Homo sapiens: one gene and its partners. The protein of the gene in region 5 purifies or fractionates together with the protein of the main gene of each other region. This does not show direct contact. Each region holds a gene or a part of one and is shown on either strand. Other genes may lie near its edges. The genes, in order: GMDS, PPP6R2, ASB1, IMPACT and PPP1R12B.

Region 1 (4,320 bases), on a different chromosome or scaffold from region 5:
TAATATTTTGAAATGATTGGTTGAAAGGGGCCATATCTTGATGAAAGCACTGAAATTGTTTTAATGTTCTCTGGTCTTTAATGAAAACTCTATCTGCTTTTTCAAAGATCACAAAGTTAAAAGGCACTTCTGAGACAGTTTTACCTTGTTATCTAGGTAAGGTTATGAGAAAACACCATTTAATACCAAATTCTCAAGGTAATAATACTCATATTAGCTAGTTAATAATGGATTCATACAGTTTAGATATGTGAATATCATGATTTATCACATACCAATGACTTTAACTATGTTCTTTTGCAGATGAAGCAGGGAGGCAAATATTATGATCAAAGTGTTTGGCTTCTGGAGAGCTGGCACAGGGATAAGGGGAATATTTCTAAATAGGTTTTCCAAATTTTGGCAAGAACGTGGCTTAGCGCAAGTTCAAACATACACCAGATTCACTTACTCCACAAACTTGATACGTACATTTATACCTACACCATTATCATTAAGAAATACAATGGGACTACCGTGGAAATCCAAATTTTCAATTCCCCTTGTCAATTCAGATGGTATGTTAAGAAATACAAAGTTTCAACTTTCCACAGAGGTTTATATAGCACATAGAGGTCCTTCAAAAAAAAGTGCCTTTCGAAATGAAAAACTACTTATTAGCCAGTAAGTAATTAGTGGCTAATTAGTAATTTTAAAAATTTTTCTATTGACTTGTAAGAATTAAATTTAGGTTTTTTGATGTTTATCATTATTTCAATGTCAGGACTATACTATTTTCTCAAAGTATACTAAGAAACCAATGATGGCAAACTATTAAATGAAGATTCCAACATAAAACATTTCAGATTAACCTGTTTACCAGTAAAGTAATGTTTGGGAGTCCAATGGAAGTATTTGACCCTATTCATACAATTTATTGATTCTTTTACCCAGTGTTGACTACGCACCCACCAATCACTAAGCACTGAGCTAGGCACTGGGGATCTGGGAGAGAAGCAGCAGCCCCTGCTCTCAGGTATCACAGAGAGGGTCAGGTGGGCCAATAAACCAGTGCTGAACCTAGTAAAATGCCAGGTCTGCAAGGGGGGAAAGCCTTTGGGGTTGTAGCATGGCTGCCAGGCGCAACGCACGTGAGAAATGCCTACCAGAAATGGAGCTTGAATGGAGTCTACCAGTGAGGTCATGAAGGGACTCATCAAGCTGTGAGACAGGGTGGTACTCCAGGCAGGAGGAACGGCACTTGCAAAGATGAGGAAGGGCCTTTCTCTTCCAACTCTTACCACAACCTTATGATGGTTATGGCACCTCCAATGAGGGCTATCGCTGATAGCACTGTGCTGAGCTCTTTAGATGGGGTAACTCATTTAATTTTCCGAGCAACCCATGTGCTAATATTACCCCCATTTTGTACATGAAGAAGCTGAGATTCAGGGAAGCTATATAAATTAACTATTCTAAAACAGCATTCAAATCGAGAGCTATATGACTACCAAGTTCTTATATTACCAGAACTTTCATGTCGTGCTAGAAAGGTGGATCTTTTCTTATCTGGTTCCTAAAGTTATCTTGGATAACTAGCCAAAATTAACTATAATTTCTAATTCTTTTTTTTTTTTTTTTTTGAGATGGAGTCTCACTCTGTCACCCAGGCTGGAGTGCAGTGGCGCGATCTCGGCTCACTGCAAGCTCCGCCTCCCGGGTTCACGCCATTCTCCTGCCTCAGCCTCCCGAAAAGCTGGGACTACAGGTGCCCGTCACCACGCCCAGCTAATTTTTTGTATTTTTTAGTAGAGACGGGGTTTCACCGTGTTAGTCAGGATGGTCTCGATCTCCTGACCTCGTGATCCACCTGCCTTGGCCTCCGAAAGCACTGGGATTACAGGCATGAGCCACCGCGCCCGCTCAAAATGTAATTTTAACTATTATTTAGAACAGCTATTTTGAGATATAATTCACATAGCATACAATTCATTCATTTAAAGCATATGCTTCAATGGCTTTTCTTATATTCATAGAAATGTACAACCATCATCACAATCAATTTCAGAACACTTTCATCATCCCAAAAAGAAACCCTGTATCATTTAGCAGTCACTCACCAGTTTTCTCCTAGTACCCTAGCCCTGGCATACAGATAATCTACCTTTTATCTCTAGATTTGCCTATTCTGGACACTTCCTATAAATGGAATTATATTAATGTCTGGTCTTTGTTTCTGGTTTCTTTTAGTTAGCATAACATTTTCAAGGTTCATCCATACTGTAGCTTGAATCAGTACATTGTTCCTTTTTTATGGCCAAATAATATTCTATTATATGTATATACCAAATTTTATTTAACCGTCCACGAGATGACTATCTGTGGTGCCTCCATCCTTTGCCTTTTGTGAATAATGCTACCATGAGCGTTCATGCCTTTTTGTGAACGTATGCTTTAATTTCTTTTAGGTATATACCTAGGGGTGGAATTGCTGGGTCATATGAGAACTCTGTTTTACCAATTGAGGAACTGTAGACTTTTCCAATGTGGCTGCACCACTTTACATTCCCACCAGCAGGGTAACAGGGCTCTGATTTCTTCCCATTCTCCCCAGTACTTGTTATGGTCTGTTAAACTGTAGTCATGCTAGTTGGCACCGAGTGGTATCTTATTGTGGTTCCGATGTGTCCTTCTCAATAACTAATCATATGAAGCAACTACCTTTTCATGTGCCTACTGGCCACTTGTATATCAATTTTGGAGACATGTCTATTCAGATCCTTTGTCCATTTTTAAATCGGATTACTTATCTTTTTATTATAGAGTTGTAAGAATTCTTTATACATTCTGGATCCAAGTCCCTTATCAGCTATATAATTTGCAAAGATTTTCTCTCATTCTGTAGGCTGACTTTTCACTTTCTTGGTTGTGCTCTCTGAAGCATAAAAGCTTTTTTATCTTTTAATTTTGATGAAGTCCAATTTGTCTACATTCGCTTGTGTGGCAGATGCTTTTGGTGTCATATTCGAGAAGGCTTCGTTAATCCAAGGTCATGAAGATTTATTCCTATATATTTTTATGAGTTTTATAGTTTTTCTTCTTACATTTGAATTTTTGATCAATTTTTAGTAAATTTTTATATATGGTGTGATGAAAGGGTCTAACTTCATTCATTTGCATGTTGACATCCAGCTGTCTCAGTATTATTTGTTAGAAAGGTTATTTTTCCCATTCAATAGCATTTTCCTCAAAAATCAATTAATTAATGAAAAATGTGGGAGACAATTTCTGACTTTCAATTCGATTTCATTGATGTACTTACTCTATGTCTATCCTTATGACAGTACCACACAGTCCTGGTTACTGTAGCTCTGTGGCAAGTTTAAAAATTAGGAAGTATGAGTTCTCCAACTTTGTTCTTTTTTAAGGTTATTTTAGCTATTCTCTGTCCCTTGAATTTCCATATGAACTTTAGGATCAGCTTGTTGATTTCTGCAAAAACACCAACAGGGATTCTGAAAGGGATCATGTTGAATCTGTAGATCAAAATGGAGGCTATGCCCATGCTAACATTATTGTGCCTTCCGATACATGAATATAGGATGTCTTTCTCCTTTATTTTGGTCTTTTAAAATTTCTTTCAACAATGTTTAATAGTTTTCAGAGAATAATTTTTACACTTCTGCTAAATTTGTTCCTAAACACTTTATTCTTTTTTATTTTATTATAAATACAATTGTTTTCTTGATTTCAAGAAAAAGTTTTGGATTAATTTTAAACATTTTTGTAACCACATGTTTTACTACTTAATTCTCAAGAAAGGCTTAAAATGATTTTTTTTTTAAATTTGCTCTCCTCATTTTTACTCCATGTTACAGAAGAATGCTCTTTTAAGGAAGAAACTATATAAAAGCATAGAACATGAGGGCTGAGACTATCCCAAGTGAGAGGTGAAGAAAGAGAAACGCACAGAGGCTGCACACCTGTCCTGAGTCAGGACAAGTAGCCGAGCCGGACCCAGGCCTGTCTCACTGGCTTTCTAGCCTTGTGCTGTTTTGCTAAGCCACAGTGCAATGCAGGAGGAATCTCTTCTGCGATGAGATGACCTAAGTGTTTGTGAATTATTATAGCACATGTGGATAATGGAACCCCTATAATTAACTTAAATACATACTTGATTTATAAAGCCTTAAACTATAAGATTCTCGTTAGAAAGAGGACTAAGAAAAGTTAGCTCAATGAATGGAGGGAAAGCCAGCTCTGTTAGTAACCAGCTGTGATATCTTACACAAACCATTTAACCACTCTGAAGTCATAGTCTCCTCTGTGTACTACTTGCAT
Region 2 (4,320 bases), on a different chromosome or scaffold from region 5:
GGTTGATGCTGGGTGTGTTTGTGTGCAGCAGTGCTGCCATGAGGCGGGCGCCATGCAGACGGGCATTCCCCAGGGGCTCCTCCAGCACACCAATGGTGGTCAGGATCGCTTTCTTCTGCAAACACAGAAGGCACCACCCAGTTAGGCCCTGTGAGCAGTGAGGCCACTGCTGGAGTCTCTGGGCTCATGCCCATCACTCTAGGCTGGGACCCAGCCTGGGGTAGCGAGGTATGTGGTGGGGGTTCCTCAGGGAGGGCCGTCTGCCAGAAGAAATGAAGGCATCAATGGGGTGAAGAGCCTGCTGCTCCCCTCAGGGCTTCAGAGAGTGCTCCCAGGATGCTCACGGGCACTCCAGTCTGAGCCTGCAGGGCCAGAGAGCCGTGCACCTCAGCGGGTGAGATGTCCAAGATGGGGCCAGCAGTACCGGTCTAAGGCCAGAGCCCTTGGCACGATGCCTCACTGAGGATGCCCAGTGGGGGTCCCTCTGCGGCCACAATCTCAGAACACCAAGCTAACAAGTGTCCCATGAACACACTTTGGGGACACTGACGGGAATGCCTCCTCCGATGGACCGCGGTCTTTTCTGATCCCCCACACTCAGCCTACTGCACCTACCTTCTCTTCACTGAAACCTCCAGCTGACAAAACAGAATCTTGGCCCCCACAGAGCTCGCTAGTGGGACAGGTGGATCTTACCAAGGTGGCGAGTGAGAGGAACTGAGCTATAGGTCAGGAGGGTGCTATGCAGCAGGGGTCGGGTTGTGTCTGGGGAGGGTGAGACGGGATGGGGAGTTGCCTGGCTGGCAGTCTGAACCAGGAGGAGCCTTTGTGTGCCTCACCCCCCTCAACATGCTGCTGAGCAGGGCAAAGGGCCTCCCCTGCCACCCCCTGGTCCCCTCTCAGGAGCCGAGCACCCCTTAGCTAGGTGCCCCCAACTTGGAGGCCAGGCTTATGGTGACCTCGGGGTCATTTGCAGAGGCAGAGATGAGCATTTGCAGATCTGGGAGGGGCAGTCCTGAAAATGTGTTTTGGCACCTGCCCGGTGCTTCTCAAGTGGGGGTGTGGGAATGGCCGTCTTAGAACACATTCACTCCACACTCTGCTACCTATGGGACAAGCTGTGGCTTCTCCTCCCTGCAAATCAACCTCTCCTGCGACGCCTCCAAAGGCACTCAGCAGTCGCCACGGCCATTTACCTTGGGCGGGTTGAGCAGGAGCTGGTGGAAGTCCTTCAGCCGAGGCTCGATGCCGTGTAGTACGCTGCTGCTGACAGCGTATGACCTTTCCAGTCCCTGAGAAAAGGAGTCCACCAAGCCCTCTGTCCTGTGGATGAGGAAAGCAGATGGAGACCGGGGACACCAGGACCCTGTCCAACCTCACCAGCAACTCAGTGCACCCGCTTCTTCCAGAAAGAGCCCTTTTAACTTTCCCAAAAAGAAACCCTAGAGCAGTGCAGCTACCCAGCGTCTCCACACGTGATCTGGTGACTGGTACAGGCAGAAGAGAAAGGTACTAAAGACCTTCAGGCAGATGCTTGCTTGCGACATCCGAGAATATGGAGGCAGGGCAAGTGACACAACACAGGACTCACTGGCCCTAGCACCAGTTAGAGGTCCTGCTCTGTCCCACTTTTAAAACCTTCACTGCTATCCCTGTCTCTTTCACTGTTCCTGTGTCGACTTTTATTTTTATTTATTTTTATTTTTTTTGAGCCAGAGTCTCGCTCTGTCACCCAGGCTGGAGTGCGATGGTGCGATCTTAGCTCACTGCAACCTCCACCTCCTGGGTTCAAGCGATTCTCCTGCCTCAGCCTCCTTTTTGTATTTTTAGTAGAGACAGGATTTTGCCATGTTGGCCAGGCTGGTCTCGATCACCTGACCTCAGGTGATCCACCCGCCTTGGCCTCCCAAAGTGCTGGGATTACAAGCGTGAGCCACTGCGCCTACCCCCTGTGGTGTTTTCAAGCAAGTCTTCTGAGATATTTATTTAAACACTCTTTCCAGTTGTAAAAGTAATACGTAATCATATATTTTTTAAAGTAATATGCAAAATAATTTTAAAAATCAGAGAGCCAGGTGCAGTGGCTCACACCTATAATCCCAGCACTTTGGGGGGGACAGGTGGGAGGATCGCTTGAGCTCAGGACTCTGAGGCCACGCTGAGATATGATCGTGCTGCTGTACTCCCACGTGGGTGACAGAGCAAGACACTGTCTGAAAATAATAATAATAATAATCACAATAATCTAAGAGAAACAGCTGGCTTATCTCTGTTTTCCTGATTTTTACACAGTCCCCTCTATCACATACAGGGTTAAGCTTGGGCCTCAGAAGTGGCTCAGCTTTCCTGGGTTTATGAAGATTAAAATATCAATATTCCAGTTGCCTAACTAGAGAAAACGGTAACATTATAACACTACTTCTGGTTAATAAACTAACAAATATGTATTAGGTACTACCAGAGACAGACAGAGAGAGAGAGAGAGAGAGAAAGAGAGTCCTAACAACCTCACTATCAAGGTTAAGTCAATTTCTTATCATTTTCTCATTGTTCCTTTTTCTTTCACTTTAAAAAAGCACAGGCTATCAGTGTTGGGGGCTGAATTATGTTCTCCCCAGAACGTGGAAATAAGGGAGCTACGGCCACCTTGGGAGAGTTAGACATCGTCCCAGCCTGTGATGGAACGGAGACGACGGAAACGTCCTGAGACATCAGGTTCCTGCCGGCATGTGGGGAACCTGAATCCAGAGATGGGGTTCAAGGGCCAGGGTGAGGCCAGGAGGGGAAGTGCCCAGAGGACACTGATGTGGCCCTTTTGGGACACACCCTATAGGATCTCCTGGGCACCTGGCGGGCCAACCACACCCCCTTGTGCCAATGCCTCCCTCACAGACTCCACTCGGCTGTCTTTCCATTTGCGCCTCATGGGCATCCTCTTTGGAGTTTCAACTGCTTGAACGGCTCTGGCAGTGCCCAGCCTTCTATGACTTGAGGGAAGGACTAGGCCACACTATGATCCAGAGAAACAGTTTCAAACACTTCCTGAAATTTCTACTGGGGGTCAGAGAAGGGTCTCCAGCACCTATATCCTCAAACAAACTCAACTTTCACCCGAACTCACTCTTCTGCTGCTGACTCCTCTGTCTCTGCCCATTCACTGTCGTGACTCAGCAGCCTCCGACAGCTGCACCTCAGGACAGCGATGTGGGGTCACAGCAAAGGAGCACCTCCAAGCAAGCTCCACTCTCCTCTGCCACATACTGCCCCATGCTTGTGTCCACACTGGGACCCCCTCACTGCCTCATCCAAGGAGCTGTGTCTGACCAGATGCGGCCTCTCAGGGAAAATGTCCCTGACTGCGAGGCTCCACCCACCAGCCCCATGTGGGTCCCTTCTTGTGAGCCCCGAGGCACTGGGTGCATGTCTACTGCACTCGCCACTCTGCATCACCCTCGCTGTCCACAGACGGGCCTCCTGTGCCAGACTGGGAGCAATTAAAGGGGAGGGGCTGTGTCTCAGTTCTCTGTCTCCTCGGGCCCGTGTTAGTGCACAGTGGGTGCAGAAATGACACCTGATGAATGAGAAAGGGCAATGGAGGAGAGTCGCCTGGGAAAAAAGTGCTCAGCACGACGCTCAGCAGGCGGTGCCGACCCGTGGGTGCACAGGGCACGGGAGACAGCGGTGAGTGTCACACCCCTGCCCTGTGAGGGCCAGTCTGCATGGGAGATAAACACATGTATATGTAACCATGCATCAGAGTGGAAACCCTGCGACACACACACAAACACACACGGGAGCTGTGGGGACTTGTCGGAACAGTCCTTGGGGAAAACCTGCCAACCACACCTGTTCCACGCACATCGACAAATGCATCGCCAACTGGTCGTGACGAGCAGCTTCAGGCTGGAGAGGGAGCACCAGTGATGATGAGGGTCTAAGGGGACTTGGCCACAGCCATAAAGTCAAGCCTTCAACAAGGGGAATCTATCCATGTTGTTACTTGCATAATCAAAAATTAAAACCACAAATGACATAATCCAGACTGCTCGTGTGGGCTGCCATATCACTGAGGCGTCAAGTTCAGCTCTACACGATTTCTCCTCGTGAGACTCACCCAACCCGCCTGGTTTCCAGCAAGGTGAGTAACACCTGAGTCCCACTGACGAGGCAGCTCTCCGTCCGGTCTCCATCAAACATGTTCTTCAGAAGCTGCTCCACACAGTCCTGCCTGCTGGACACACACAGAGGTCACTGCCTGGCAGAGCAGACACACACACAAAGGATGCAAGGATGCTCCTTCCTCCCCGTGGAGGACCCCAG
Region 3 (4,320 bases), on a different chromosome or scaffold from region 5:
AGGAGGCTAAGGAAGGAGAACTGCTTGAACCCAGGAGGCGGAGGTTGCAGTGAGCCAAGATCGCGCCACTGCACTCCAGCCTGGGCAACACTGCAAGACTCTGTCTCAAAAAAAATAAAATAAAATAAGACTGTAAACCTAGTATAATGGAAGAGGAAAGAAAAAAACAACATATAAGAAGAAAAGATATCAAATGGAAACAGTTACAAAACAGAAAGATAACAGAAACAGACCCCAACATCAGCTATAGCAATAATGTTCACTGTATTAAAAAGCAAAAACTCCTAGACAAATGGTTCTACACAAGCACAAACAGAACTACTGAAACTCCCTAGGGTTAAAACTAAATATTACATAATGCCATGTAAATGGGCCTTAAATAAAACTAATAGTACTCTTGTTTTGATAGAGCATAATATGTAAGCAGGAACTTTTATGAGTTCAATTAGCATCAAAATTTTCAAAGCAAAACCTATTCAAAGTACAAGGGGAAAAAATGGCAAAATCAAAAATGTGATCAGAGACTAACAGAATTCTTTAAATTTCTGGCAGATCCAATGACAAAAATGTAAAAAAAAAAAAGAGAGAGAGAGTGCTAACCTAACAAAGTATAATATGTAAACAAAACACCCATGGTCATGTACTTGTTTCAAGCATTCACAACAATGTAGTCTGACATTAAAAAATAAGAAGAAGCCAGCATTGTGGTGCACACCTGTAGTGTCAGCTACTAAGGAGGCTAAGGCAGGAGGGTCACTTGAGCCCAGGAGTTTGAGGCTGCAGTGAGCTATGATCACGCCACAGCACTCAAGCCTGGGCAACAAAGTAAGACCCCACCTCAAAAACTAAACAAAAATAATAATAATAATAATTTTTTTACGTCAAAGAATCCCCAAAATGAAAACTATCTGGTCCATATTATCTGAGCATAATACAACAAAAAGCATTATTAAAACCTTATCTTCCATAACTCTAAGAACAAAGAGGAAATCAACTTCAATTAGAGCTATTTAAATAATAAGGAAAAAGCCTAGAGAGGATGGTCAAAACTATAGTAAAAGGTAAATTAACGTTGCAAGTTTGCATTCTTAAGAAAAAATGAATAAGCAGTCAACTCAAAAGGGAAAAAAAACTAAAAATTAGAAAAAGATAAAAGTAAATATAAAGGAACAGGTAAGCCAAAAAACAAAGAGACCTGATAAAGCCAAGAGGCAGCTCTTTACAAAGGCCAGCAAAACAGGCGAGTCATCTAAAGAGCCGAATTCTAAAGACAGAAAAACTGCAAAATACAGAGAAGAAAAATAAAGTGGCTGCAGGAGCCAGGCGAGCTCCACAGTACTGGCCTGATGAGGGCCTTCAGGATGTCTGCCCGGCCCACGCGAGAGGCGTGGTAGACAGGGGTGCTGCGATGGTGCCGGCTTCCGTTGGGGTCCGCGCCAGCTTCGAGAAGGATCTGGGTACTCTCTAGGTGCCCGTTCACCACAGCCACATACAGGGCCGTCTGTCCTTTTACGTCCACCAGATCCACCTCGGCCCCCTTCCGGATGAGGAAGTCCACACAGCTCCCATGGCCTGCAGTGGCCGCGATTCGCAACGGTGTGCAGGGGAGCCAGCCACAGCACCAGACAGACTTCTCGTTGATGCGGCTGCAGGAGGAACACAAGGGGGCTCATGAGAGGCAGCCGCAGGACAGGGACGGGCTGCACTGCCCCCCTCACCCTGGCAGCATGGACACGGTCCCCCTCTGGTTAATAACGCCTCCACCTGGGCTCTGCCTTCTGAAATGCTCTCACACCTTTCCCCTGCGGGACCGGGGCATGGCAGGGCAGGCATTACGAGCCCCATTCCAGAGACAGGAAACTCAAGGCACCTGCAGAATGATCAGCACCAAAACTAAGATCTCTAGTTCTTAGATTTCCTGACTGCCATCTGAAGTGCCTTCCTCTACAAAGGTGGGAAGGGTCTGCCTGGGAGGCAGTGCCAAATGAACAGCGCACTCGCCCGGGAGTCTGGGTAAGAGCCCCTAGGCTGCTCTTCCCCAGTTACCATCTGTGAAGGCTTGAGGCTGGGCCTCTCTAGGCCTCAGCATCCTCACCAGGACTAGGTGACTATGTAGGCCCCCAACCTCTAACACTGCACAAATGATGGCCTGAAGGAATCACTAAGGTGGCACGGGGGCTACACCCCTGGCCAAGAGCGGCAGAGGAACCTGTCCAGACTCAGCTCTCGGCAGATGTCACAATCAGACTGCAACTGCCTGCCCCACCCACCGACCCAGCAAGGCAGCGACCGCAACGGGTTCACAGCGAGCTCCCAGTGTCACTGAGAACAAAGCTCAGAGGCCCAGAGCACCAAACCAGGGCCCAGGAACATGCAGGGGAAGCAGCTCCCAAGCCAGCCCTCGGGGCTCCTCCGCCAGCTGCGCCTAGGCTCTGACTGCCCAGGAAAGTCGAGGAACACTCCAGGAACTCATCACCAAAGAAGCAAATAGCAATGGGAAAATGTAAAGAACCAGAGATGCCCTGAGCCTGAGTAAAAGAAGGAGGAGAAACAGTGCTGGGAAATGCAATATAGAAAGACTTGGGCTGAGACCTCACCGAACTCTATTTCATTCTGTTACATCTGCAAGTTGAATTAAGGTTTTCTTTGGGCTTGAGTCACCCACTTTAAATATCTGTGCGTAATCCATCTGTCTTCCTATGACAGTCCTTTCTGGTATTTTTCTTTTAAATACTGATATCTGTTTTGATGAAATACTGCTAAGACACTAGAAGGAAATGAAGAAATACATTCCTGTACTGTTAGAAATCCTTTTCTTGGGAACTATGCAAAGAAAAGTTGTGGCATTAGTTTCGGCGCCAACATGTAGGCATTGCTTCTACCACCGCACTGGCATTTGGGTCCTGAAGGGAACGCGGAAACACAACAGCAGCATGGATAGTTCCTGGCTGCTACTGAGTTTAAGCTCTAGCTGGGACTGCAACCTTAGACCCGCAGAACAATCAGAGAACAGTCCAGAGAGCAAGCAGACTCTGCTCCCCCAGGTGTCCTGAGCAGGGAGAGGGAAGGGCAAGCATCACTTGCTGCGAAGGAAGGGCTGGAGCCATTTTGTGGGGACAGGCAGAGTTTGGCAAGGCCAGGACAGGGGACCACTGATGAGGGGAACAGAAAGGAGAAGGCTGATGAGGTAAAAGGGCCTAAGGCTGAGGCCCAGGTCCCGGGGGCAGATGACTGAGGGCCTGAGAAGCTAGAGGAAAGGGCACTAGGGAAGGTGGTGAAGCAGGGTGAATGTACAGAAGCGCCTGCAATTAAGAGCCACGAGAAACCCAAGATGGGGCAGGGCCGCCACTGAAGAGGGAAACAGTGGTACCTTCAGGAGTGACATCAGGAGGCTGAGGCCCACAGAAGGCCAGAAGTTGCCAGAAAACACTAAGGTTAATGGCAGAGCAGGACCTGAACTCAGGTCTCCCTGCCCACACTGTCTGGCTGTCTCCTACAACTCTGACCATGCTGCCTCAGTCTCCTTTATCCCCGTCCTCTAAAACTGGAACACATTCCTCCCAACATCAAGGTCTTCATCTGCACAGCGACTGTGGGGCTCAGCTTCACACAGACCTTCAGGGCCCTAGTACCCGGACCAGCCCTGGGCAGCGCCGCTCACCTCCGGTAGCTCTCCTCTTGCAATAGGCTCCTGAGGGTCTGGAGGTCCCCGACGTAAGCTGCATCATGGAGCCTCGTGTCCTCACAGTGCTCCAGCGGATGATCACAAAATTGCTCCCTCAGCCACTCCTTCAGATTACGACCTGCACTGAAGAGAGGGGCTCCTGTTAGCTCATGGAGGCCCTGCCAAGACTAACCAAAAGGGGGTGCCATCTGCAGCGAGCCTTCCCTCTCCCAGCTACGGGGCACCTTCAAATGCTCAAGAAATAAATCACAAGCTGGGCATGGTGGCACGCCTGTAATCCCAGCTACTCAGGAGGCTGAGGCAGGATCACTTGAGGCCAGGAGTTCAAGATCAGCCTGGGCAACACAGCAATACCCTGTCTGTAAAAACAAAAGAAATAAATCACAGAAAATAGTAGAAACCTTCCCTTATTAAATTAGCACACTCCTGACACCAACGCTGACAAGAATAATTTTTTAAAAGTTGATGGGGCCCAGGAACTATAAGCCAAACCTACTGAAGAATAAAGAAACAAGATCCTAAAGAAAATATCAGCAGATTGAATCAATATTGTGTCAAAGAATCCACTGATAAGGCAAACCTGAAGAATACGGATGCAAGATCCTAAAGAAAAAATTAGCAGATTGAGCCAGGTG
Region 4 (4,320 bases), on a different chromosome or scaffold from region 5:
TTTAAAAATGTAACTTTACAGGTAGTATTGAAATTGCCTCGTACATCAATAATGTAAGCTGAGCTACATTATAGAAGCAAGGAAGAAGAAAAGGATTCTGCTGAAAGGAGAATGAGAAAGGCAAAGACCTAGGAATAGTTTATGGCTGAAACCTCTCCCATTTATATCCCTGGGTGGAAATATGGTCACCTAAGATCAAGAAGCACAAAGGAAAGTAAGTCAGGTAGGGAGGACTTGGTTTAGCCAGTCTGTCCACTGTCCCCTTTGTTGAATAATAACAGAGGAATGGACTTAGTTTCACAGAACTCCCATTCGACAGGACAAATAATTCTTTTTGACAAGGTATTAAGCATCATAATTTTCTCTAATAACACAATGGGTATTTCTTATTTAAAGATTCATTAGAGGGTTAACCCCTAATCAGAGTTTAGATACAATTTTGAAAGCAGTGACAGGCCTGGCTAGGTGGCTTATGCCTGTAATCCCAATACCTTGGATTGGGAGGGCTGGAGGCAGGAGGGCTGATTGAGTCCAGATTGAGACCAGCCTGGGCAACATGGTGAGACACCATCACAAAAAAAAAGAAAGAAAGCAGAGACAAACAGAAACAAAACAAATCTTCCGTGATTCACAGTAATTTGGGAGTAGAAAAATGAACAAATAATTTTTATCTTATATGAAAATAAAACATAAAAGTAAAAACAAGGGGATTATTGCAAAATCATTTACCTGAATTATTTTAGTAATCATCAAAGTGAGCTAGACAAAGGAACTTTACCTGTTTGGGACAAACCACTGGAGCCAAGTGTGCCTGAAAAGTACTTCTTCGGTCTGTAATAGGAATGCCATGATCAATCGGAGGTAATTCTTCTACTTCTACTTCTAGAAATGTAAAAGAAACTTTATTTTTTAAAAAGCCTTACATTCAAATACTGAAAAAAATGAAATGGGGGGGCAGCTGGGAAAGAAATGTAAATTACATGGCAAATCAACTAAAATAACCATTAATCGCTATCTACCAAAATTAAATTTAAATTATAATTTTAAGTAAAAAGTTTCTAACTATATTGTACATAAGATTAAAATACTTGATTTATAAATGATTTCCACCTGCCAAGGTTACCCAGGGGAAGCAGTGGGTTGGGACTAATCTTGAACTGCTGCAGTCAGTAGTGTAAGTTGGTACAATATCTAATATATAATTTTTAAGAGTGTAAAGGAGTCCTGAAACCAAAGATTTATAGCTGCTAATATAAAATTTATTTATCAGTTTCACTGTTGTTAGACCTCTGAGTTGGGAAAACTATGAATTTATATTCTTTATATTGTGTAGCTATAATATAATGCCTTCTGCTAATGAAACTGTTTCTACTTCATATGATGGAATTAAATACATCAATAATACATCCAATTGGTATTCCTTAAAGAGCATCATGATTTCCAGTTATTATACCTCTTAAAACAAGTTTAAGGATCATGGCTGGGCGTGGTGGCTCACGCCTGCAATCCCAACCCTTTGGGAGGCCGAGGGAGTGGATCACCTGAGTTCAGGAGTTTGAGACCAGCCTGGCCAACATGGTGAAACCCCCGTCTCTACTAAAATACAAAAATTAGCTGGGCATGGTGGCGTGTGCCTGTAATTCCAGCTACTCGGGAGGCTGAGGCAGGAAAATTGCTTGAACCTGGGAGGCGGAGGTTGCAGTGAGCCGAGTTTGTGCCATTGAACTCCAGCCTGGGCAACAGAGCAAGACTCCATCTCCAAAAAAAAAAAAAAAAAAAAGAATCACTAATTAACCCTCAATTCTGTTGAGAGACTTAATCGTCCTGGCTACTACTACCTGCCTCACTTAGGATGAAAAGTTATTCAAGACAAGAAAGTAGGTTTATGTAAGATGTTTTACACCTTCCCTCTGATACTGTTCTTTTCCTGAATTGATTTTGACTGCTGTACTAACATAGTAATAAGTCAAATACAGTATTAGGGTCAATATGAACTACTGACCAATTGATAGTATTTATTTATGAGTATGATTTTTATCCTTTTTCTTTTCATGGTAGATCCTGTTTTCAAAAGATATCATATGTCAAATCCACACACAAATAAATGATTAAAATGGGAGCTACTTAGGCTAGAGCATAAATGAGAGCCCTGGATGCTCCCCACTCTTTCATTTCCTCTTTGTTCCCTTCTACTAGTCCTGGACACCATTCAAAAGCCTTAAAACTCAGAGCACCTTTTAAAAGCTACTGTGTAATGACACAGGAAACCCCTCACCTTCAAACAGAATGAATATTCCCCCTGGTCTACCATGTTTTCCTAAGAGGCTTAGGGAAACTAACAATAACATTCAAAATTTTAAAATATTAAAATGAAACATAATATCACAGCAACCTATTTTTATGTTGAATACTACTCGATTACGAAACAAATTTGTTTAAACGAAAACTAGGCCGGGCGTGGTGGCTCACGCCTATAATAATCCCAGCACTCTGGGAGGATGAGGTGGGTAGGTCATTTGAGGTCAGCCTGGCCAACATGGCGAAACCCAATCTCTACTAAAAATACAAAAATTAGACAGGCATGGTGGCATGTGCCAGTAATCCCAGATACGTAGGAGGCTGAGGCAGGAGAATCACTGAACTTGGGAGGCAAGGTTGCATTGAACTGAGATCGTGCCACTGCACTCCAGCCCGGGCAACAGAGCAAGACTCTATCTCAAAAAAACAAACAAACAAACAAAAACTGAACTCAAGCTGGGCACAATGGTGCATGCTTGTAGTCCCAGCTACTCGGAGGCTGAGGTAGAAGGATCACTTGAGCCCAGGAGTTCAAGGTCAACTTGGGCAACACAGCGAGACCTTGTCTCTCAAAAAAAACCTCTTAAAGGCATTTTACTAGCTTTAATTTCCAGGGCTGCACTTTCAGTTAATATATTTGTATTTGTGAGCACAGACTAAAATTTAATCCTGAAACATCAGGAAACAGCTAAGGATTTCAATACAGAAATATAAAAACATGATGTTAACTAAAAACGTTAATAGCCTTTCTTAGTTTCAATTTCTTCCATCACTAAATCAAAACTCTAGAAAGTAGGGGGAAAAGAGTAAATTTCCATTTTTTCCTTGCCATTCTGATAAGACTTGGCAAACACCAAAATTGCCAACAGGCAGGAAAAAATTAATCTTATCTGCAAATTAATAACTCCTTCCTAAAACTGGAGAAAATTAGTAAATTTCTCTATCATCTCAAAGAACAATACATAATACTACCAACCCACTCTCCTCAAAAGAAATTAGTTAGTAACATTATACCTGTCCGAGTTTCACTGATATCAAAATCCAATGCTTTAAGCGAACTTTCCGGCTGACATGCTAAAATGAGATCATCTTCACATTCAACATCTTCCTCTTCAGTTTTCTTCTTTACATCTGGGCCTATGTGAATATGAGACACAATTACTTTATGACGCAGGTAAGAAACGATGCTTTTTAAAAAAAAATCACTGGGTCTTGGGTTCTAAATACCACTCTTCAACGAAAGGAACCAGCACTCAGCCCGTAGGAGAACTGGTTGATTCCTGAGTTGGAGCAAGGAAACTACAAGATGAACCTGGAACCTCATGTGGATCCACAAACTGGGAAATGCTCAAAAAGAGATGGGGCTTATAAAAAGAACACAGGAGTTAACCTGAAGGGGCTCTTAAAGGTCAAAGCTAGAACAATTTGAGCAACAAAAAAATATGATAGGATGGCATTTTAACCCATGGACTGAAATAATATACATGAGTCCATACTGATATAAATAATAAACAGATAAATAAATACATAAATGGGAAGAGACATCCCTTCCTCATAATAGAATTCCAATTACTAAATGAGGAAGGAATGAAGAAAATAGAAAATCATCATCAGGCAAACACCACAGTAATAAATATTGTTGACAAGTTCCATGGATAGATACTAAAATTAGTGGCAGAAAGTTTAAGGAGAAACAGGATATTAGCATAGCTTCAAAGTATCTCCCTCAAGCTACAAAGAGAAAGACAGTGACTGCAATGGTTAATCTTACATGTCAACTTGTCTAGGCCACAGTACCCATATATTTGTTTACTTTTGTTTGACACAGAGTCTCATTCCGTCACCCAAGCTGGAGTGCAGTGGCACCATCTCAGCTCGCTGCAACCTCCGCCTCCCAGGTTCAAGTGATTCTCCTGCCTCAGCCTCCCAAGTAGCTGCAATTACAGGTGCGTACCACCACGCCTGGCTAATTCTTTTTTTTTTTTTTTTTTTTTTTGAGCCGGAGTCTCGCTCTGTCGCCCA
Region 5 (4,320 bases):
AAGTTTGACAGGATATTTTCCTTAGATTAAAGCACATCATAAACATAAATACAAATAACAATTTAGCCATCAAGTTGGGTAATTATCAAATTTAGAAGATCAATGGCATTTGTACACATATTAATGGTCTTACCAGGATTAAATCATCAGGTTAAATATTATGTGATACAGATCCATTAAGGGAATGCACCTAAAATTGTTTTCAACAGAACATAAAGACAAAGGGGACATTATTTTTACATTATAATATTTGTACAAAGCTATAAACTTCCAAGTCTTTTTACATGTTATATGACTTTAGTTTCCCAACAATCCTTCAAGGTAAATATAATAGATATTACAATCTTCATTTAACAGATGAGGAAATAAAAATAGAAAGGTTAGGAATCTTGCTCAAAGCCACAAAACACATTAGTGACAGAACTTGCCGCTAGAACTCCGATATCCTGGGTCCCTCTCTGTCATTCCTCTTCTGGGTCCCTATCCACTCACTATACCATAGGATGAGTATCCAAAATCTTGGTTTCAGGTATTGATATACTTTAAAAATTGAACTATCTCTAAAGTTCATTTCCATATACAGGTAAATACACTGACTTGAAGATATATAATCTAGGACAGATTAGTAGGTGATCTGCAGTTTAAAAACCTGTCTGCTTTCAAGGGAATGCAGATTTTGTTTTCCTTAAAAACATTATGAAAGAACTCCAAGAGTTCCTCCCTTTAGCCAATAACTCTCCAATATCTGTGCCAGTGAAAAGGGGTTAGGGTGAGGCATACCCCATTATACAAAATAATAAAATGTCCCAAATACAAACATACCCATTCAAAAAGTTTTACACTCATTAGCAGTCTTTGTGCTTGGTCTACTCCCTTTCAGCTCTTAAAAGAGAAACTGCTGGGTGCGGTGTCTCATGCCTGTAATCCCAGCACTTTGGAAAGCCTAGGTGGGTGGATCACCTGAGATCAGAGTTCGAGACAAGCCTGATCAACATGGTGAAACCCTGTCTCTACCAAAAATACAAAAATGAGCTGGGCATAGTGGTGGGCGCCTGTAATCCCAGCTACTTGGGAGGCTGAGTCATGAGAATTGCTTGAACCTGGGAGGCGGAGGTTGCAATGAGCTGGGATTGCGCCACTGCACTCCAGCCTGGGAGACACAGTGAGACTCTGTCTCAAAAAAAAAAAAAAAGAGAGAACCTGTCAACTACCTAAGTATTATCTGTGTGATTTTGGGAGATGGATGGGGTGAAGAGGTAACCAATTTAAATCAGATCAGTACTCCAAACACAAAGAAGTGTTAGCAGTGCTGGAAAGTTAAACATATATATGAATACCCCTTTCAACAGAGTATGTTCCCTCATTGAAGAGTCAGCAATCAAAACAGAAAAAGTGGTTGCTCCAATCTAAACTATTTTTTAAAACTGATTTTTTTAAAGTTGTTTGTACATTTTAAAGCAAATCTTAGGAGATAAAACTGATTGAGGCTGGAGGTTAAGCTAAGCATAAAATTCTTCAATTCAATAGCGCACAAAGCCAGGCGCTATAGCTCACACCTTTAATCCCGGCACTTTGGGAGGCCGAGGCTGGTGGATCACTTGGGGTCAGGAGTTTAAGAACAGCCTGGCCAACATGGTGAAACCCTGTCTCTACCAAAAAATACAAAAATTAGCCAGGCATGGTGGTGCACACCTGTAGTCCCAGCTACTCAGGAGGCTGCGGCAGGACAATCACTTGAACCTGAAAGGCAGAGGTTGCAATGAGCTGAGACGGCACCACTGCACTCCAGCCTGGGCAACAGAGTGAGACCCTGTCTCAAAAACAAAAAACAAACAAACAAACAAAATAGGACAGAAAAACTATACATGAAAGGCAGCAAAAGCAAGTAGTTACTGACCTAGAACATCACTATATTAAGGTAGGATCAGCATACTTTCTCCAAAGGGCCAATATGTATTTTCAGGTTTGTGGTTCATCCAATCTATCACTACTACTCAACTCTGCTGTTGTGGCACAAAAGCAGTTTTGGATAATATGTAAACAATGCGCATAGCAAGAATTGGCCCTGACTGTTCTAAAAGTTCATATTGGGAAAGACCACTGGAGCTAAATCCTCTGGGATGAACTGCAAGATTGTGAGTAAGGTAGTTTAGCAGAAGGACTAAAAAAAAAAATCACTACAAATCTTGTCCGCAGAGTTTTGTGGTGGAAAAAGAACCCAGGGACTTCCAGGTTGAAAAATTCCATCCTATTCTGTGAAATCGATTCTCCTAAAACTATAAAATAAGAATAAGCATTTTTAGAATATATTATTCTAAGTTAGCTTCCTCACCTTAACAAATTATCATACTAATTCTCATGATTAGTTACAATAAATATCTTTATCAGCACCACTTTTAGCTCTCAACAAGGGAAAAGATGCAAAGTCACAAACTCAGTTTAGCCAATTCTCAAATTTACACTGTATCCCAATACCATGCATACACACAGTACTGTGCATACACACAGTCCTCATCAGGTCACTCTTAATTGTATGATGGGTATGCAACCTCTGAATGGCAAAAACAAGGAATGATTGGTCATCCTTTTGACATCTGGCCTATTCTTGTCTGAGTTATTATGAGGATACATGATGCTGGATTAATGATTAATGCAGTGCAGACAGATCAAATCCTCTCCTGTCATGTGATAGTGAAATGCTCTGCACAGCAAATGGATTATTTTCTGTAAATGGCAGTGTTTGAGAATCTTTCCTGGCCCCCTCCAATCCATGAGGTTACCTTGCTTCTTTACTTGCTCCAGAAGAAGATCCTTCATGGCTGGCTCTTCTGCAAGGTCAGAGGGAACTTCACCTTCACTATTGACAATACCTACACTGGCTCCGTGATTAATGAAATACCTGCGTAGACAAGATCCAGGATCAATATTATCTGTCAATCTAATATAAATTTTACCCATGCATCTGGCATTCAATACACAGCGAAGTCTCTATTTTGAGTTTAAAATATGGTCTCAGTTAAGATATTCCATTATTAATTTCTATGTGCCTTAAACTTCAATAATTAAGACTGAAGGCTTCCCCATTTCCTGACTAGAGCAATGCCAACAAACAGGATTTCTTTCACACTCATATTACTAACTCCCATCCTCTCACTCCCAGTGGATGGCAAGAGAATTTCTAAGTAACATAAAGAAGGCATGCAGCCTTAAACTTTCCCAGTGCCACACTGGAGCTTATTAAGTAGTGCTGTGGGTGTGAAAATAGAAGAATAAAGTGTGCATTAAAATTTGCATAAATCTGCCTAAATTATGCCTCCATAAAACTCTCCTATCAACCAGACATCCACATGAAATCTTCCTGTGCTGTAAGACGAAACTAAATTACTTAAGAAGAAATATTAAAATGTTAAATAATTAAATTCTAAATCCAAATAGAATACTTGATTCTGAAGAAGAAAGGTCTGATAATTCAATACCTTACATAGATCCTTTTTGATTTTCAGAGTGCTTTCACATAAAATTATATCATAAGTCTTAGGCAACATTATGAAGTAGGCAATGTGGGTATTATTACCATGACTTTAAGAAATTGAGGTTCATACATATTAAGTAATTTTCTCAAAACCACATAGCGGGTAAATGGCAGAGGGTACAGCCCCAGTCTTGACTTCAAATCTAGTTCATCTTTTCTTTAGATCAAGTCACTTTTGGGCCAGTGAGAACTCTAATAACGCTAGGAGCTCTATCAAATACTCAGAAGTGTTTAAAGGAAAAAGAAAAATGATTCAAATTAGACTTCAATCCATTCAACAATTCAATAAACATTTACTGGACCCCTACTATATTGAAGAAACCCCTTTTTTTTTTGTTTTTTTTTTTGAGACAGAGTCTTGGTCTGTCACTCAGGCTGGAGTGCAATGGTGCGATCTCGGCTCACTGCAACCTCCACGTTCCAGGTTCAAGCAATTCCCCTGCCTCAGCCTCCTGATTAGCTGGGATTACAGGAATGTGACACCACGCCCAGCTAATTTTTTGTATTTTTTTAGTAGAGATGGTGTGTTGCCATGTTGGTCAGGCTGGTCTTGAACTCCAGACCTCAAGTAGTCCGCCCGCCTCGGCCTCCCAAAGTGCTGGGATTACAGGTGTGAGCTACTGCGCCTGGCCATGGGAACCACATTTTAGACACTGTAGGAGATTTAAAAAAAAAAAAAAAAAAAGAGAGAGATAATATATGGCCACTGGCCACTGCATTCAAAGAACTGGCAGATGGAGCCAAACGCAGTGGCTCACCCCTATAATCCTTTGGGAGGCTGAGGTGGG

What was found.
Region 1: the proteins of PPP1R12B (region 5) and GMDS purify together in Homo sapiens (affinity purification with mass spectrometry; one large-scale study listed by BioGRID and IntAct). This does not show direct contact.
Region 2: the proteins of PPP1R12B (region 5) and PPP6R2 purify together in Homo sapiens (affinity purification with mass spectrometry; one large-scale study listed by BioGRID and IntAct). This does not show direct contact.
Region 3: the proteins of PPP1R12B (region 5) and ASB1 purify together in Homo sapiens (affinity purification with mass spectrometry; one large-scale study listed by BioGRID and IntAct). This does not show direct contact.
Region 4: the proteins of PPP1R12B (region 5) and IMPACT purify together in Homo sapiens (affinity purification with mass spectrometry; one large-scale study listed by BioGRID and IntAct). This does not show direct contact.

What each region holds. Positions count from the first base shown.
Region 1 is NC_000006.12:1,930,934-1,935,253, forward strand, and holds part of GMDS (GDP-mannose 4,6 dehydratase), read right to left. Parts: intron 1-4,320. UniProt on the Homo sapiens protein: Catalyzes the conversion of GDP-D-mannose to GDP-4-dehydro-6-deoxy-D-mannose.
Region 2 is NC_000022.11:50,419,257-50,423,576, reverse strand, and holds part of PPP6R2 (serine/threonine-protein phosphatase 6 regulatory subunit 2), read right to left. Parts: intron 4,232-4,320; coding exon of another isoform or gene 4,229-4,231; coding exon 4,115-4,228; intron 1,324-4,114; coding exon 1,197-1,323; intron 116-1,196; coding exon 1-115. UniProt on the Homo sapiens protein: Regulatory subunit of protein phosphatase 6 (PP6). May function as a scaffolding PP6 subunit. Involved in the PP6-mediated dephosphorylation of NFKBIE opposing its degradation in response to TNF-alpha.
Region 3 is NC_000002.12:238,433,037-238,437,356, reverse strand, and holds part of ASB1 (ankyrin repeat and SOCS box protein 1), read right to left. Parts: intron 3,804-4,320; coding exon 3,662-3,803; intron 1,647-3,661; coding exon 1,344-1,646; intron 1-1,343. UniProt on the Homo sapiens protein: Probable substrate-recognition component of a SCF-like ECS (Elongin-Cullin-SOCS-box protein) E3 ligase complex which mediates the ubiquitination and subsequent proteasomal degradation of target proteins.
Region 4 is NC_000018.10:24,439,611-24,443,930, reverse strand, and holds part of IMPACT (protein IMPACT), read right to left. Parts: intron 3,436-4,320; coding exon 3,313-3,435; intron 883-3,312; coding exon 779-882; intron 1-778. UniProt on the Homo sapiens protein: Translational regulator that ensures constant high levels of translation upon a variety of stress conditions, such as amino acid starvation, UV-C irradiation, proteasome inhibitor treatment and glucose deprivation.
Region 5 is NC_000001.11:202,421,199-202,425,518, reverse strand, and holds part of PPP1R12B (protein phosphatase 1 regulatory subunit 12B), read right to left. Parts: intron 2,900-4,320; coding exon 2,781-2,899; intron 1-2,780. UniProt on the Homo sapiens protein: Regulates myosin phosphatase activity. Augments Ca(2+) sensitivity of the contractile apparatus.